2 separate regions of the Homo sapiens genome follow, and region 2 is linked to region 1. The links come from fine-mapping of genetic effects on gene expression. Tissue or cell type: blood mononuclear cells. Region 1 holds a variant in brackets; the other region holds the start of a gene. All regions are shown on one strand. Distances are between the middles of the regions.

Evidence for each region. PIP is the estimated chance that this variant, and not a neighbour inherited with it, causes the effect.
Region 2: CCDC85A starts here. The variant in region 1 is fine-mapped to the expression of CCDC85A in blood mononuclear cells (TOPMed, PIP above 0.99).

What each region holds. Positions count from the first base shown.
Region 1 is chr2:56,334,770-56,342,951 of GRCh38, forward strand. CCDC85A (coiled-coil domain containing 85A) reads left to right here. Exons shown (of 6, transcript NM_001080433.2): 3 at 8,110-8,182. Among named protein-coding and RNA genes, the nearest start is that of CCDC85A, 150 kb to the left of the region's middle. The variant T/A (reference allele first, on the strand shown) is at 3,649.
Region 2 is chr2:56,180,367-56,188,548 of GRCh38, forward strand. It overlaps CCDC85A (coiled-coil domain containing 85A), which reads left to right and starts at 3,624. Exons shown (of 6, transcript NM_001080433.2): 1 at 3,624-4,534. The coding sequence starts at 4,259. It overlaps LOC100129434 (a long non-coding RNA gene), which reads right to left and starts at 5,404. Exons shown (of 3, transcript NR_125368.1): 1 at 5,332-5,404. RefSeq lists a silencer at 3,294-3,623.

The DNA.
Region 1 (8,182 bases):
TAGGCAGAGAAGAATGAGGAAAGTACTGCTGGCTAGGGGAATGTGTGGGCAGAGACACAGAGCTAAGAGAGCTCTGGGCCAAAGACAAACTGAAAGGATTTCTGCATGGGAGGAGGGGAAGAGGAACTAACTGTCATCTCTTTTGGGTAGGCAGAGAGAAAAAGGTCTGAGAAGAGTAGAATTTGCTTCATAAATAGTGGACTAGGGCAAAATCTGATATCAATTTTAGATTATTTAGGGCAATTAAAGCCCCATTAAAAATTCTATTTCTGTTAATAAGGCAGTATGAATTAAATATCCAGGCAAATCTGAAAGTGCTGGTTCCAACAAATTTTTTTTAAAATAAGAAAAGCGTCAAATTTTAGTGAGAAATATAATCACTTATACTTGTGGAGTTAATATGGATTCTAAGTAGGAGGCTGACCTTTGCTTGCCTGAAGAAGAAAAACACTTTGTTCAGAACAGTAATAATTTTTAAAATACACAGTTCTGACGTAATTTCCTTAGGGATGTGAAAAAGCCTGTGGATAGTGGGATTCATATGGAATGAGTGCAAGCCATGCCTTTAGCGCTTGGGGTTTATTGAAAAGTTTGTCTGTGAATTGGAAAGCATGTGGCTATTGGCCTCTTTTGCTGAGAGAGACTATCTTAGTCCACTTTTTGCTACTATAACAGAATACCACAGACTGGGTGATTTATAGTGAACAGAAATTTATTAGCTCACAGTTCTAGAGACTGAGGAATCCAAGATCAAGGGGTTAGTATTCAGTAAGGGCCTTCTTGGTACATCATGTCATGGCTGAAGGTAAGACAGCAAGAGGGGGCCAAACTCATCTTTTTTTTTTTTTTTGAGAAGTAGTCTTGCCCTGTCACTCAGGCTGGAGTGCAGTGGCACAATCTGGGCCCACTGCAACCACTGCCTCCCAGGATCAATCAATTCTCCTGCCTCAGCCTCCTGAGTAGCTGGGATTACAGGTGCCTGCCACCACGCCAGGCTAATTTTTGTATCTTTAGTAGAGACGGGATTTCACCATGTTGGCCAGGCTAGCCTCAAACTCCTGACCTCGTGGTCCGCCTGCCTCAGCCTGCTAAAGTGCTGGGATTACAGGCGTGAGCCACTGCGCCTGACCCAAACTCATCTTTTTATAAGAGCACCAATCCCACCCATGAGGGTGGAGCCCTCATGGCCTAGTCACCTCTTAAAGGTCCCACCTCTTAATACTGTTACAATGACAATTAAATTTCAGCATGATTTTTGAAAGGGATAAACAGTCAAGCCAACACAGAGACTAATTCTTAGAGAGCCACATAAAAGCTAACATCTATAAACTCATGGCCACTATAGTCTTCCAGATAATTTTCCTCATATACACTCTTTATTTATTTATTTATTTATTTTTTCAGATGGAGTTTCACTCTTGTCCCCCCAGGCTGGAGTGCAATGACACTGTCTCAGCTCACTGCAACCTCCACCTCCCAGGTTCAAGCAATTCTCCTGCCTCAGCCTCTCGAGTAGCGGGAGTACAGGCATGCACCACCACACCTGGCTAATTTTTGTATTTTTAGTAGATACGGGGTTTCACCATATTGTCAAGGCTGATCTCGAACTCCTGACCTCAGGTGATCTGCCTGCCTTGGCCTCCCAAAGTGCTAGGACTGTAGGTGCAAGCCAGTGTGCCCAGCCTCCTCTTATACACTCTTAAAAATGCTGTAGTTTGTGTCAGAATGGACCATTACCAGATTTTATTTTCTGCCCTGAGATTTTGGAGAGATGACATCACTTCATCTAATCAAAACCACTCAGAGGTGTGACAAACCTTAGACAGTTGCAAATACCAATAATAAACCTTTTATATACAATCATCAGTGTAATTTGTGGGTGATTTCAAGGATAGGTGTTCTGTAGGGTAACACTGCCTTAGAAACAAAAGGGAAGTAAAGAGGGTTTCATATTTTTATCAGAGTGTTTTCAAACTAACAGAGAAAACGAACAGAGCTCCTTTATACAATTGAATGCATTGCAGGTTAGCTGAAGTGAAATCAAGTCAAGAATATTGTCTGAGGAAATATCAAGTTACTGTAAAGGTAAATCCATCAAGAATATCTAAAGTCAGGGAGGAAAAAAAAAGAATTTAGTATTTATCTATGTATGTTACTTCATGATTAGTAGATCCAATATGAGAATTAATGTGGTGCTCGAGTAATGAAACACAATTGTTTGAATATATTTGACTAGTCCCCATTGTTAGCAACCAAGTTCATCGCACTCTGAGCTTTAGTTCTCTTATTTGCAAAACAAGTCAGAGGATTGTGGCAGAAGTTGAATTAGAAAAGCTCTAAGGTACGTAGTACCAGTAAAATTTGAATTTAGAAGATGCGGAATTTAATGGAATTTTTATGCATGTTTCTTAATTTGTTTTTCTTGCAACAGATGCTGTGAACTTTTACACATAGGTTCAAAGAATAGTTCCTGCTTTGAAAATGGGCCTGAGATTCACCCAAAGAACATCTTGAGGATGTCATTGGATTTTCACATCAATATCGTTTGCTTCACCTTACTTTTCTAATGTCTAGATGCCCATAGGTTTCCCAGGGTGGAAAGAGAAATAAAATAACTTTTGGGAGCTTTAAAGCAAATTGCCACTGGATTATCGTGATTTGATATTTGCTTTTCCAGATAGGTGACTGTGGGAAATAATCTGGCCTCTCCTCCTGTACCTGCATGTCCCTTTCTTTTCCGTCATGTGATTCCTTTCTTTCTGTGTTTACAATAGGATCATTTTTGGCTTCTGGCCCAGGTCCATCTGTGGCTCCACTCATATCTCTCTGGCCTATCAAAATTCTATTGATGCATTTTAAGCTTCAGTTTCTCCTTCGTAAGAACTACTGCCAATGTTGATTTTTTTCTTTGCTCCCCTTTCACAGGATTTAGTACTAAATTTCAAATTACCTTATTGTTTTTTCCCTTTTATTTTCTCCCAACTGCTTATAAGTTTCTTGAATATAGGCTCCTTTTTTTTTTCTTTTTTTTTTGAGACAGAGTATGGCTCTGTCACCCAAGCTGGAGTGCAGTGGCACGATCTCCGCTCACTGCAACCTCCGCCTCCCGGGTTCAAGCGATTCTCCTGCCTCAGCCTCCCGAGTAGCTGGGATTACAGGCAGCTGCCACCATGCCCGGCTAATTTTTGTATTTTTAGTGGAGACAGGGTTTCACCATGTTGGCCAGGATGATCTCGACCTCTTGACCTCGTGATCCGCCTGCCTCAGCCTCCCAAAGTGCTGGGATTACAGGCTTGAGCCACCTAGCCAGCTCCTTTTTTAATGCATTATATATTTATGTACTTTGTAGCTGAGAATTTGGCTGTTTTTTGATGCTCTTTTGGAGCCTCATTCTCAGAGTTCTAAAAGCCAAAAATGGCATTCTGAAATCTCAGTTTTATGAAGCTGTCAGCCAGTGGTATAAAATGTAATGGTCAATTTAAATTATGGTACATTCAAATGCAGCTTTCTATTAATGACTTTATGATAAAATGAATGCCAGTTTTAGACACTTCCCTTAGGTACAGCTATCCATCATGTTCCCTGAGTGTACCGGGAGATCACCTTATATTATAGTTGACACCCTTGAAAAAGGACAAAAAAGGGAAA[T/A]AGCAGCATGGGGAAGGGGGTTGCAGCGGATGTGGTCAATGTGTTCCAGTACCCAAAAGGCTTCTTTCTTCTCTTCCTCTCACCATGAGAAGTTTCTATCAATTTTTCCTAATGATTAGCTATGACTGAGATGTGGATTTGGATGTGACTTTTTTTAAGAAAGTGTTGAGTTTCTTATACTTTATTTTATTCTATTTTATTTAAAATATAGCTTACATTTTAAAAAATTTAATTATTGGTTATGCACTACTAGTCAGGCTCAGCTGACCTATGGTAAGTAACAAACCTCAAAATCCCAAGGGTTTAACGAAACAAATATTTCTTCTTTTTTTCTCATGTCACAGTTGGGAGATTGGATTTTTTTTTTAATGGCTTTTCCTATAGGGGCTTGGGGACCCAGTGCTGATCTCACAGTATATTCCAGAAAAATATTTTTCTACTCCACTCCCATTAAAGGATGGTGTAATCAGTTTCTTTCTGAATGAAACAAAACAGCCTGAGTACTCTTATTTATACATGTAGATCAGATATTCTTCCTGTGTTTTACCCCCAGGAAGAGTGTATTTTTGTTTGAGTATCCATTAATTGTTAAGTAATAATTGCAACAGGGGCTAAGAACCTGGAACAATTAACAGGACCTTCTGGAATGCCTGTAATCTAATAGGGAATGTGTGTTCTGAGAAAGTTATTAAGGTTTGCAATAACTGGCTTTATCTTCATCCTAACCCTAGAACAGTGCCTGACACAAATCAGTGACACAATAAATATTTGTTGAATGAATGAACTTAAAATGTTTTTGCCTTTGCCTTCACTGTAAAGCCATTTTTTTTCATTATTTCACCTGTTTAAAACTATGCTCTGTCTCTTCCTGTCCCAGCCCATATTTGCAGTGAATGCTTTAGAAAAAAGATGTGGACATGATCTATTGTAATTCAACATTAAAAACGAGAGAGGATATTTTCCAAACTCAGGAATTTACCCCTTTTTTCCTGAACTGACATAATACTTTCATAATATAAATAGAGACTTGGTGAAAACATCAGATATATAAACTGCAAAGATTTTGAAAAGAGAAATAGATGAAGGGATTGAAGACAGTCACTGAATTAAAACAAATTCCGTTCAATAGCATTTTTCAAATTTCACCTGACTCAATCTGTGTAGTCTTTTCAGCTGCTTTAAGTATCACAGCCTTATAGATAGTGCAGCATAGGGGCAATAAAGATAAGGTGTAAATTGTGAACAAAAAAGAAAATAACTTTATTTTTGTGTGGTTTAAATAGAATATTGCTGATGAACTTTTCACTTGGATGGCCTTATCAAGTGGTTTTTTTTTTCCAGAGGAAAGAGCAGGGCTTGCAAAACAGTGTAAATCAGGCAATCTACATTCACATCTTGATGATCTGCAAATCACTGAATTCATTTGCAAGAGTAAAGCAGACTCATGAAATCAATAACTTTGCTATTCATTTATGCTGCATACTTTTCCCCTCTTTGGAAGAGTCCATAAAGCAGAGTTTTAAGATTTTATTAAGCTAAAAAAATGAGAGGATATCTTTAGCAAATATCTTCAGTTTTCTTTACCTGTGTTTCTATTTTCTTATTTGAGAAATGCTCAAAGCTAATTGTCTCCAATGGTGTGAGGTCTGTGGGTCATCATGTTAATGTCAGTGATGGGGGCTTTCTGCACACTATTTTGGAAAACAGGCCTGCTCTAAGCTAGTCAGAGATGAGCTTAATTGTTGTATTTGTGAATTAAGGACTGATGCTTATGTATTTTAGAAAATAAAGTGTTAGCTCATTGCTTTAGAGGTCATAAAAATAGAATTGGGTTCATATAAACTATTTCCACATAAAATAATTGTGTTTCCATGATGAAATTCAGATCAGGGCATCAATATCCATCCTAACTGTGGATCCTTAGGGGCTCCAAACACTTAGGTGCACTACCGTATTGCCTCTTGCCCTTTTTGTGTGTCTGAGGCTGAAGAACATGAACACTGAGGAGGTTGTTCTGCTTCAATATTAACTATGGAAGTGTTACCAGTAGCGAAACCATATGAGTCTGCAGCAGCCCCAGTTCTTGCCCCTAATTCGACTGAGGGGCATAAAGCAGAAGAAGAAGCCGAGGCAAGTTTTAGAGCAGTAGTGAAAGTTTATTAAAAAGCTTTAGAATGGCTGTGCGTGGTAGCTCATGCCTGTAATCCCAGCACTTTGGGAGGCCGAGGCGGGAGGATCTTTTGAGGTCGGGAGTTCGAGACCAGCCTGACCAACATGGAGAAACCCTGTCTCTACTAAAAATACAAAAAATAGCCAGGCGTGGTGGCACATGCCTGTAATCCCAACTGCTAGGGAGGCTGAGGCAGGAGAATCGCTTGAACCTGGGAGGCGGAGGTTGTGGTGAGCCGAGATCGCGCCACTGCACTCCAGCCTGGGCAACAACAGTGAAACTCCATCTCAAAAAAAAAAAAAAAAAAAAAAGCTTTAGAGCAGGAATGAAAGGAAGTAAAGTACATTTGGAAGAGAGTCAGGGTCAGGTGGGTGACTTGAGAGATCAAGTGCACTGTTTGACCTTTTGACTTGGGTTTTATACATTGGCGTACTTCTGGGGTTTCATGTCCCTTCTACACTGATTCTTCCCTTGAGATGAACTGTCCACATGTGCAGTGGCCTGCTAGCTCTTGGGAGGGGAGCATGTGCAGTGTGTTTACTGAAGATGTATGCACGCTCACTTGAGGCATTCTTCCCTTAGCCGTCTCGCATTTCCAGAGGAAGATCATATACCAATTAAACTGCTATTTTTCCTCTTAGTACACACGCTTGAGACCACTCGCCCAACTCCAGAGATCTTACTGGGGAAGTGGTAATCAACAGTACCAGGTTTTTTCTATCTATTGGGTTGACTGCAACTAATTATTATTTTAGAGAGACAGTTAACAACCACCTGACTATCCCGTGATGGTTGCCTGACATTCTTGGTGGGTGGGCTTGCGGGGAGCCCTCTCCTGCCTTGCTCATGTTTGACTAGCTACCTAATGTAACAGAAGTGTGCTCTGGAGAAAGTCTATTGCTGTGTACCTTTCACTGCACCTGAAATATTTTGTTGTTGTGTGATGAATGAATTGCTACTATGTGATGATCTTGAATATTTTCACTTTAATGAAGAAGAGTTACTATCAGATTGTTCCCAGAAATAAAATTTTACTTTTCTTCACCTGTGACCCCTTTTCCTGACATAAAGCCATAAACTTTAGAGTTCAGTATGGAACAGAAGCTAAGCATGATAATGATTCTGAGCTTTCAGCTCATGCCTGAGCTTGTGAAGAAATGAAAAAAATAGTCAATTTCAGGTCTGCTCCTGGTTTACCTAAAGATGTGTGAAAAACTTGGGTCTCTGTCACAGTCAGCCAAAATCAGTCAAAATTCATTCTAACTCTAAATAGCTCTTTCATGTTTTTTCTGTCAATGTCTGTAAGTTTGTGAAAAGAACAAATATTTTTCTTAAGTCTTGAAATTTTTATTGGGAGAAATAAAGAGAACTGGATGTTTGAAAAATTTTGTTTTATTTTCTGTTTTTTTTTTTAATGTAGCTTTGTAGTTTATTTTGGTTATAGTTAACATTACAAAATAGTCTTGTATATGTAGAACAACTCATTGACAACTCAAAATGTACAAAATCAGAAGAAAAGAGTATAATTGTCTTCAAGATGCCTATTATTCTGAGGCTGGTTGGTGTGCAAAAAGCCTGCAGTCTCACCACCTATAATTTTCTCTAATACTTTTTTTTTTTTAAATTGACCTCAATACACTTTATTGCAGAACAGGAAATACTAAACATTTAAGAAAGATTTGTGGAAAACGATTTGACTTCAGAAAAATATTTGTTCCATCTTAAGAGGATCAAACTTCAGAAATATTTTTAAAAGTCTTCCTCTGAAATGTCTCAATTCTTAGTGATTAAAAATAGCTAAAAGGGCTTAGAGTAGTGGAGAGACTGGATTTCGGTATTAGATTCAGGTTTGAGTTCTGGTTTTGCCCTGTTCTAAGTGTGCGTGATTTTACTAATTAATAATGATGTTGGACTGCTTCTCTTAGGTTTATTTGTCTAGTGTGTTTCCACTTCTGACAAATATTTTCCATACCTTTACTTGTGTTTTCTTATTGGTTTGTAAGAGTTCTGTATAGAATCTTAATACTAATCGTCAATTGTGTGTACTACCACCTGTAAATATGCCAGTCTGTGTCTTATCTAATATTTCTTAACGTTGTAAAATTGTTCAAAACTGTTTTTAGTTTCAGTGGCTTCTGTTCTTATTTTTCTGGGAGATATTTTTTTTTCTCATTTTAAATAACAGACTAAATAGTCACTGTCTGATTTGAATAAATCAAGCCAGAAATATCCTGACAGTACACCAAACAAGACCTGTGTGTATAATGTGAGTTCTTTCTTTTTAATTTTAGAATCAACCTTGTCCTATGTTAGGCAGCTGGAGGCAAGAGTAAGACAGCTGGAGGAAGAAAATCGCATGCTGCC
Region 2 (8,182 bases), 150 kb before region 1:
GTGATGTTAATTTTTTTTTTTTTTTTTTTTTGAGACAGAGTCTCGCTATGCCGTCAGGCTGGAGTGCAGTGGTGCTATCTTGGCTCACTGCAAGCTCCGCCTCCTGGGTTCACGCCATTCTCCCACCTCAGCCTCCCGAGTAGCTGGGACTACAGGTACCCGACACCACGCCCGGCTAATATTTTGTATTTTTAGTAGAGACGGGGTTTCACCGTGTTATCCAGGGTGGTCTAGATCTCCTGATCTCGTGATCCACCCGCCTTGGCCTCCCAAAGAGCTGGGATTACAGGCGTGAGCCACCACACCTGGCCGATGTTAATTAATTTTGTAGGGAGGTTGTGAAAAATTATCAGCAATAATTCAATCTGTCTCAGGGGTAAAGTAGCTAGACTTGACTTTTTGAGATGATTCACTTGGGAAGTTGTGTGGAAAGCAGATTCGAGAGAGGTGATGCAGTAGTCAGAGGGACCAGTGAGAAGGGCCAGGTGAGACTTAGTGAGAACCTAGGCTGAGTAACAGTGAGCTGGGGGGAAATAGAGTTGACTGAAGAAAATTATATGATATAAAACCATCAGGACTAAAGACGTAGGGTCATTTATGGCTGGTTTTCAGAAATCTCCATTTAATATACCCAACTTAAAACACTGTCCTAGCTTCCCTTGCAGCTGGGAGGTGATTATATGGTAAGCTCTGCCTATTAGAACATAAACAAAATTCACTGGGTCAATTACCAGGATTTTTTTTTTTTTTTTTGAGACAGGGTCTCACTCTTTCGACCAGAGTGGAGTGCAGTGGCACGATCCTGGCTCACCACAACCTCCGCGTCCCAGGCTCAAGCGATTCTCCTGCCTCAGCCTCCCGATAGCTGGGATTATAGGCACGCACCACCATGCCCAGCTAATTTTTGTATTTTTAGTAAAGATGGGGTTTCACCATATTGGCCAGGCTGGTCTTGAATTCCTGACCTCAAATGATCCACCTGCATCGGACGCCCAAAGTGCTGGGATTACAGTTATGAGCCACCGCCCCCGGCCACCAGGAAAAGTTTTTAAAGGGGCATGTGCCCCTTTGCAGTTGTTATTACCTTCTTCCTGCCTTACACGTAGCTGGATGGCTAGAGTTCCACCAACCATGTTATGGACACGAGGCAATCATCCCAAAGGGGACTGAGCTGAGAGAAGGAGCCTAAGATTTTGACGACCTCATGAAGATACCATACCAGCCCTCAGCTGCCTCTCTTTAGAATACCAGGTAGGTGAGAAAAAATAAATGACTTTTTTAAAGTGACTGTTTTTTGAGTTTCTGTTTTTAGCAGTCAAATGAAGCTCCTGACACCATACATGACCTTAGCAACATGAAGCAACATTATTCATTCATGCAGATAATTATTATTCTGAATCAATGACCAAAATTAGAAACATGAAAACCTTAAGGTGATCTAGCTCAACTGTAATCCACTGCTAGTGTATATAATTTGTGGAGACTTTTTTTTTTTTTTTGGCTTTCCTTCTTCCTTGTCTTCCCAACACAAGTCTAATTTTTCCTCTCAGCCATCTCTCTGATTTCTCATATCTATTTGGTGTTAACTGATCAGAGGGAGTTAGCAGAGAAGGGGGCTGGCTGTTTCATTTTAGAATACGACTCTTGAAGAACCCGTGATGGAGGAATAAACAGAAGTCCTGGTTCCTATTTCTAGACAAGAGGCTGCCCAATGTAATATGTAATATCAGTAATAGTAAGGTTGCATTTCTGTAGGGTGGCTCGATCAAGCGCTTCTTGTATACCATATCATTAGCTGCCCGAGGGCCAGTAAGGTCGGATGGTTTGTTCAAGGACAAGAACTAACAAGTAACAGAGATAGGACTTATCTTTTTCTGACCTTCACTTTCCCTTTCTGTGACAAAACTGGTCTTAGGAACTGTGTTGAGCAGAGCCTTCTGTGGGCGTGAGAGCGGCTTGGAGGTGTCAAAGAAAAATTGCATCCGATATAGTTAAACAGACAAGGGGGAATTATTCAAGGCTATTGCAATAGGGAAGAGAGAGAGGGAGGGAGAGGGGAACTAGTAGAAGACTAGTGGAGGAGATTAGGATGGGAAGTTGGTCAGTGTAATGAGGCCATTTGTGTTTCCTAATTGGAACTTATTAAAGTTAGGCTCCTCCTCTCCACAAACACTAGGAGATAGGGACCCTTTTTTCCTTGATGATTACATTTCAAAGGGATGCCTCACAGATCCCTGAGAAAGATCCCCAGGCTGTAAAACCCAGCAAGAGGCGGAGAGATTTACATGTCAAAGGGTCAGAGGAAACATTCACCAATGGAAGTTGGCTAAAGTAAATGCTCTGAGAAAAGGAAGGTCTGGGGCCTACAGTTAGGAAGAAACCTGTCTAAAGTTTAGTTAAGCTGAGGGGAATGTTAAGGCCATTTGGTCACCGTAAGCAGTACCACATTTCCTTGCCTCTCCCGGGAGCCAGGTCTCAGTGTCCCCAATAGGGGACACGCACTGACCGGCGGGTGAAGGGACTGATTTTGATTATCATCCTACCAGATAGAGATTATTCCCTCTGCACCCGGGTTAACTGAAACCCGGTGGGGGTAGATCCTTGCCATTTTCCGGCCCTGTACCCCACTGGAAATAACATGCGGTGGTCAAGGGCATCCACCTCTTTAGGCAAAAGCATGTTTTCAGCCCAGAGACGATTCCACCCAACTTTACAAGAGGATAGCCCAAAGATAGAAGCCAGGGACTCAGACTTCCTCCTTCCAGAAATAACCATCATAAAAAAGCCGACCCAGTAAACGCCTGGCAGCCTGCGGCATAGAAGAAAATGGAAATCTCCTTGGCTGGCATTTCAGCTTGCCTGAGGGGGCTTGCTTTGCTCCGAGGGGAGGTGACTGTGCTGACCTTAAAATCCAGGTTTCAGGAAGCAGGAGATGAAGGTATTTTATTTTCGCCTAAAGGCTTTGATATTTTTCAAATAAAAATTTAAAAGATCCAGTACCTTCTCCCGAAGCTTCTTCATAGAGTAGTGGATTTTTAGAAAACACAAAGGCCTAGGGGTGGGGCGAGAGTGGGGGGTGGGGATGGGTAGCCCCATAAGAGCAGTGCCCTGACGCCTCTTTTCGCCCTTTTCAGACCATTTGGATTTTCTTAAGCTGCCCCTTTCCCCAACCCCCGTTTTTGCCATTTGCCTCTCCTCCCATTCTCCAAAGTGCAAATAACTGGTTATCCCTCAGGTCCTGCTACCCCATCTTTCCTGATCCCCGATCCCTCCAAATACGAAGCACCTCGCATTTGGGTCAGCAGCTGTTTCCCCTGCCTGGTGACAAGGCCGGTGTGCAGAGGGCAGAGGAGGGAGCTTCTTCCGCCACACGGTGGCGCGCGCGAGCCTCCCAAAGACCGGGCGGCCACAGCTCCTCACCTTCTCCCCATTCCAGCCCCACCCGCCCGGGCGCAGAAAGAGCCGCGCCCCCAGCCCTCCCGGGCAGGACAGCCGGGAGCGCACCTCGAGGGCCCGGGCAGCGGTCGAGTGGCAGCTGCGTCCAGCCCATGCGGGAGCTGCTGCGGGTTACGGGTGGCCCCAGCTCCAGGCTCCTCCTCCAGCCGGTCCCCCACCCTCCACCCCTTCTCGACTCCGCTCTGCAAATCGAAGGCTTTCCGGAGCAGCCTAGGAGCGGCCGCGGGCGCAGCGAAGGCGGCAGGAGGAGCGCAGCAGCCTTCGGGCAGCCGCGGCGGCGTCGCTAGAGCAGCCGGGGAGGCGCCGCGGTGCCCGGCGCGCCCTCCAAGCTAGGAGAGGGGAGAAGCCGGGGGCTGCAGCTGGGCAAGGGGGAGGAAAGTGCGTGTGCGTGCACGCCTGTGTGCAGGGCAGAGAGTGCGGGGGGCGACAGTCTCGGCTTAGGGCGGAGGAGAGGGCAGGGGAACGGCGGTGCAGCTCCCCCGCTGTCCCCGAGGATTTCCCGCGGCAGCCCCGGGCTCCCCAGTGCCCCTCACCATGGACTTGCGCGGAGTTGGGACGGGCCTCGGCAGCAGCAAGCGGCTGGCTGCCGGGCCCTGGGGGAGCGCGGGCGCGCGCGCGGGGATGGCGAGGTAGGATGGCCACCCAGCGCGACCCCCGCCGCCCCAACCCAGCGGCCCCTGGGCGGTGCCGCTGACTCGCCGGAGCGCACAGGGGTGTGGGCGGAGGCGGCCTCGCCGCGCCCGCGCCTTCGGGAGTCGCCTCGCCTCTTCCACCCACTTGCACCTGCCACCCCGCGGATACCATGTCGAAGGCGGCCGGAGGCGCGGCGGCGGCTGCGGCGGCGGCGGAAAGTTGTTCCCCAGCCCCGGCCGGCTCGTCCGCGGCCCCGCCCGCGCCGGTGGAGGACCTGTCCAAAGTGTCGGACGAGGAGCTGCTGCAGTGGAGCAAGGAGGAGCTGATCCGCAGCCTGCGGCGCGCCGAGGCGGAGAAGGTGAGCGCGATGCTGGACCACAGCAACCTCATCCGCGAGGTGAACCGCCGCCTGCAGCTGCACCTCGGCGAGATCCGCGGCCTCAAGGTGAGCGCGGGCCAGGTGGGGAGGCGCGGCGCGGCTGGGAGCGGGGTGCCCCGAGGAGGAGGCGGGGCCAGGCAAACTTTCCCTCCCTCCCTCAACAGGTGACCCTCCCCTTCTCCCGGTCGGCACCCCCTACCCCCAGTCCCCAGCCCCTGTGTAACTTTTCCAAACTTCGGAGGCGTCTGCTCCCCTCCTCTCCCCAACACGGGGCGCTCCACTGTCTGGCTGTTCGGGGAGGCGCTGAGGACGCTGGAAAGCAGGGAGGGAGGTGAAGGGCACGCGAACCTTTCATTTCTTAGGGAGGCTGGAAAATCTGTGCCTGGGGAGCCGGGTTTCAGTCAGTTAGGCGGAAAGGCCAGTGAGGGGGTGAATCCAGGGGATCTTCGCCTTGGAGGGTCGGGAATGCGGCTGCTCTGGGCCAGCAGCTCTTGGGCGGGCAGAGGGCGAGGAAAGGGCGCCACTGCCAGGGAGAGCGGCTGGCGGGGCGCCCGGGAGAAGCAGCGGGCGCCACCCTCAGAGCAGTCTTGTGTCACCGGGTACATAGGAGTTCAAGCTCTGCCTTCACGTCTTCTCCCAATTCCTGTGCTTTCCCTCTCCCGGAGTTTGGAAGGCATCCCCTGGAGTTGCCTTACTCCCCTTCCCACTTAACCCCAGGTTGACTGGGGGAAAGAGGAGGAGCAAAGAGACTCAGTATGGAAGGAGCAGCATTTTGACAGAGTACCCCAAGTGTTGGTCAGTGATGGTTTCTTTCTGAGCCAGCCCCCCTGCCACCCTCTTCTAGGAAAAGAAGGGAAACGTACCCCAAGCCCACTAACTTTCTTTTCTCCTTGGAGAGCGCCGGGTCTGCGAGGAGTGTGCCTGCCCAGCTGCAGTACACTAGTGGCCGGGAACCGCCCTGCTGGCGAGCACCACAAACTTCCTCTCCTTCCAGCTAGCGCTGGTGCCTCCTGGTATTCCTTCCTCTCATTGTTCTGCTTTGTTTGTAGGAAGCCAGACACAAACGAAATCACTGCAGGGACTTCAGGGAGCAAATTCCCGAAGGCACAAGCTGTTCTTTTCCCCTTTCCACTCCTATCCCCACATATCAGACAGTAGATGCTGTTCCGGAATTGCCTCAGTGCTCCAGCTCTGGGATTCTGGGGCAAGAAAGAGTGGGAAGAGTGGAATGCTCAAGGCTCACCTATGTGCTGGGCCCAGTTCAGGTGGAGATGGCCGTCTCCCGAGGCCGAAAGTCATTGTCATATAGTCCCTAGAGTGGGTGCAGGTAGGAAGATTCCTCCAGTCAGAAAAATGCCAAGGCTTACTCTCTCCTGTGGTTGAATTCATTACTAACAGAGTGTTTATTAAGTGCCAGTCTCTTTGGGGAATAGAGGCAGGCTAGTGTAGTAGGAAGATGATCTCAGAGGTGGGTTTGAATTCTAGAAACCTCATTTGCCAGGAGGGTGAGCTTGGGTAATTACTTTCTCAGATCCTCCTTTTATTCACCAATACAATGCAATGATAATAACTTTCTGAGGGTGTTATGGCAATAAGTTATGATTATGTAGGGGAAGGTTTAATACTTGACTATAAAATGGTAGTTACTGTCATCAGGAAAGGACTTACAAATCTATGGCTGTGTGTCCCCAAGATTTTGGTTTCTTAGGCAGAGCTGGACAAGGGGGCATTAGTTTGTCATCCTCTAATTTGAGTTTCTTCCATGGTCTGAACAATAGTGTGATTTAGAAGAGTTGGAAGAGTTATTATTAAATGTTTTAATAGTATGGAGCATCAAAATAATAGCTCAGAAACACTTGAAAGTTCCTTTAGGTTATGTGGATTGACTGTGTGTGATGTCTGTGTGTGGGTAGGGGAGGGGAATGGTAGAGTGGGTTGGTAGAGTGCCTGGGCTTCATTCCAGTAGCTTCATGTAGAGAAGTAGCTATTAGGTCAGCTAAAGGCCCGTACACCCAAGTAAGAAAGTCTCCTTGTGATCTAGATTCATGACCTGGCATTAAAAGACTTGCCAGTCTACTTCCTTATCAAGTTCAGAAATGATGGGGGCAGGTTGCTTTCTGATGCAGCTTCTACTCTTCTCATGTCATCCCTGGGCTGCTGCAAGGAGCGGACTCCCAGGCTTCTGGCCCACCCTGGGTGTGCTGTGGTTTTACTCTTTGGAGAGGCCAGCCTTCTCCCTTCTCTTTTTTATTTTGGCTCAGAGCTTCCTTGGACACCATAGTAATCCATAAATGTGGTTGATTGAATAAATGATGGGTACATATATTTATTTTGGCTTAACTGGAAGAAAAGAAGTATTTTTTTTTGTTAAGGGCGTGGGGGAGCGTCTGAGGGCTTGGCATTCTCAGTTGAGAACTATAAATGTAGGGGAATTAAGACCATAATACATTTTCTTTTTTATGCCTCTTTCTATGAGCTGACTTTGAAATTGCATCTAAATATTTGTAAGGCTACCAGGTGTTATTGTAGCTGTGGACACAGGAGATGGCAGCATCAGTTCTTTACTTTTCAGGGGCCTGTGGCCGGGTCCTAGCACTGATTGACTTGTTTGTGTTTAGATATTTGGGAGGCAGGGCAGTGCAGGGGCCCTGAGAAGTGGAAAGATAAAGAATTTGGATTCTGATAATTTGGGCAGCTTTGGCCAATTGTTAAACTCTCTGTCTCTCGGTTTTCTCATCTGCTCATGGGGATTTTAATTCCACATGAGGTTTTATGAGGATGAAATATACCATAGATGAAGAAACCCCAGTGAAGTTAGATAGTTTTCTCAAGGTCACACAGACATAAAGTGTTCAAAATCGGCCTGCTTTCCTTTTCTTTTGGCTAGTTGACATTCTTTGCTTAGAATGTGTGGTCCTGGAAGGGGTGGATGAGGGAGATTCTAGTTAGGGTTATGTTGTAAGGAACTGGATTCCTGAGAACCATGTCTTTGGACTGCTGAGCATATACCAACACTTCAGGCTGCTCTGACCCAGTATCCCAGTTGGGGGCTGATTCGGGATGAATCTCTGTAGATTTGTTTTCTTCATTGCATTAATTTCCCTCCTTGGTTCCTAACCCAACCACCGACCCGCCCACCACCCTGCTCTGCAGTGAAGCAAAATAACAAATTAAAACAATTATTTAACTGTAGATACAGTACTTGATAGTCTTCAGGCATAAGATTGAAATTTTGGTTGGTGTGCTACGAAGTGGACTTAACCTTTTAAAAGTCCACTTAGACACTTGGATAATTTCTGGTGGCCGGTGGCAATGTTAAAAGGACACCTAGTGTTTTGCAAAAGAAAGCCCAAGTCTTAGTGAGGCAGATTTGAAGAAGCTGGATCACAAGGTTATTATCAAGCTGGCTGCTTAGCTGTTCATCAGAAGGCAAAGGAAATAGCTCAGAACTGAATAGTAAATAATATTCTCAAGAAAACTAATAATAGAAAGAGGGAACTGTGATATAGAAATGGGAGTGGGCCAATACTCACTCCTATCTACTCCATCTGGAGTGCTGAGAAGTGTATGTTTCACTCCTTTTGGAAAAGGCATTAGCTCCGTGAAGCCGAGGGTAGCACCAGTCCTGTTTACTTTCCAGCTCTAGAGAAATCAGAAGTAGCTGTAGCATAGTCAAAGGGAAGTATTTTCCTATGAAAATTTGTTTAGATGAAA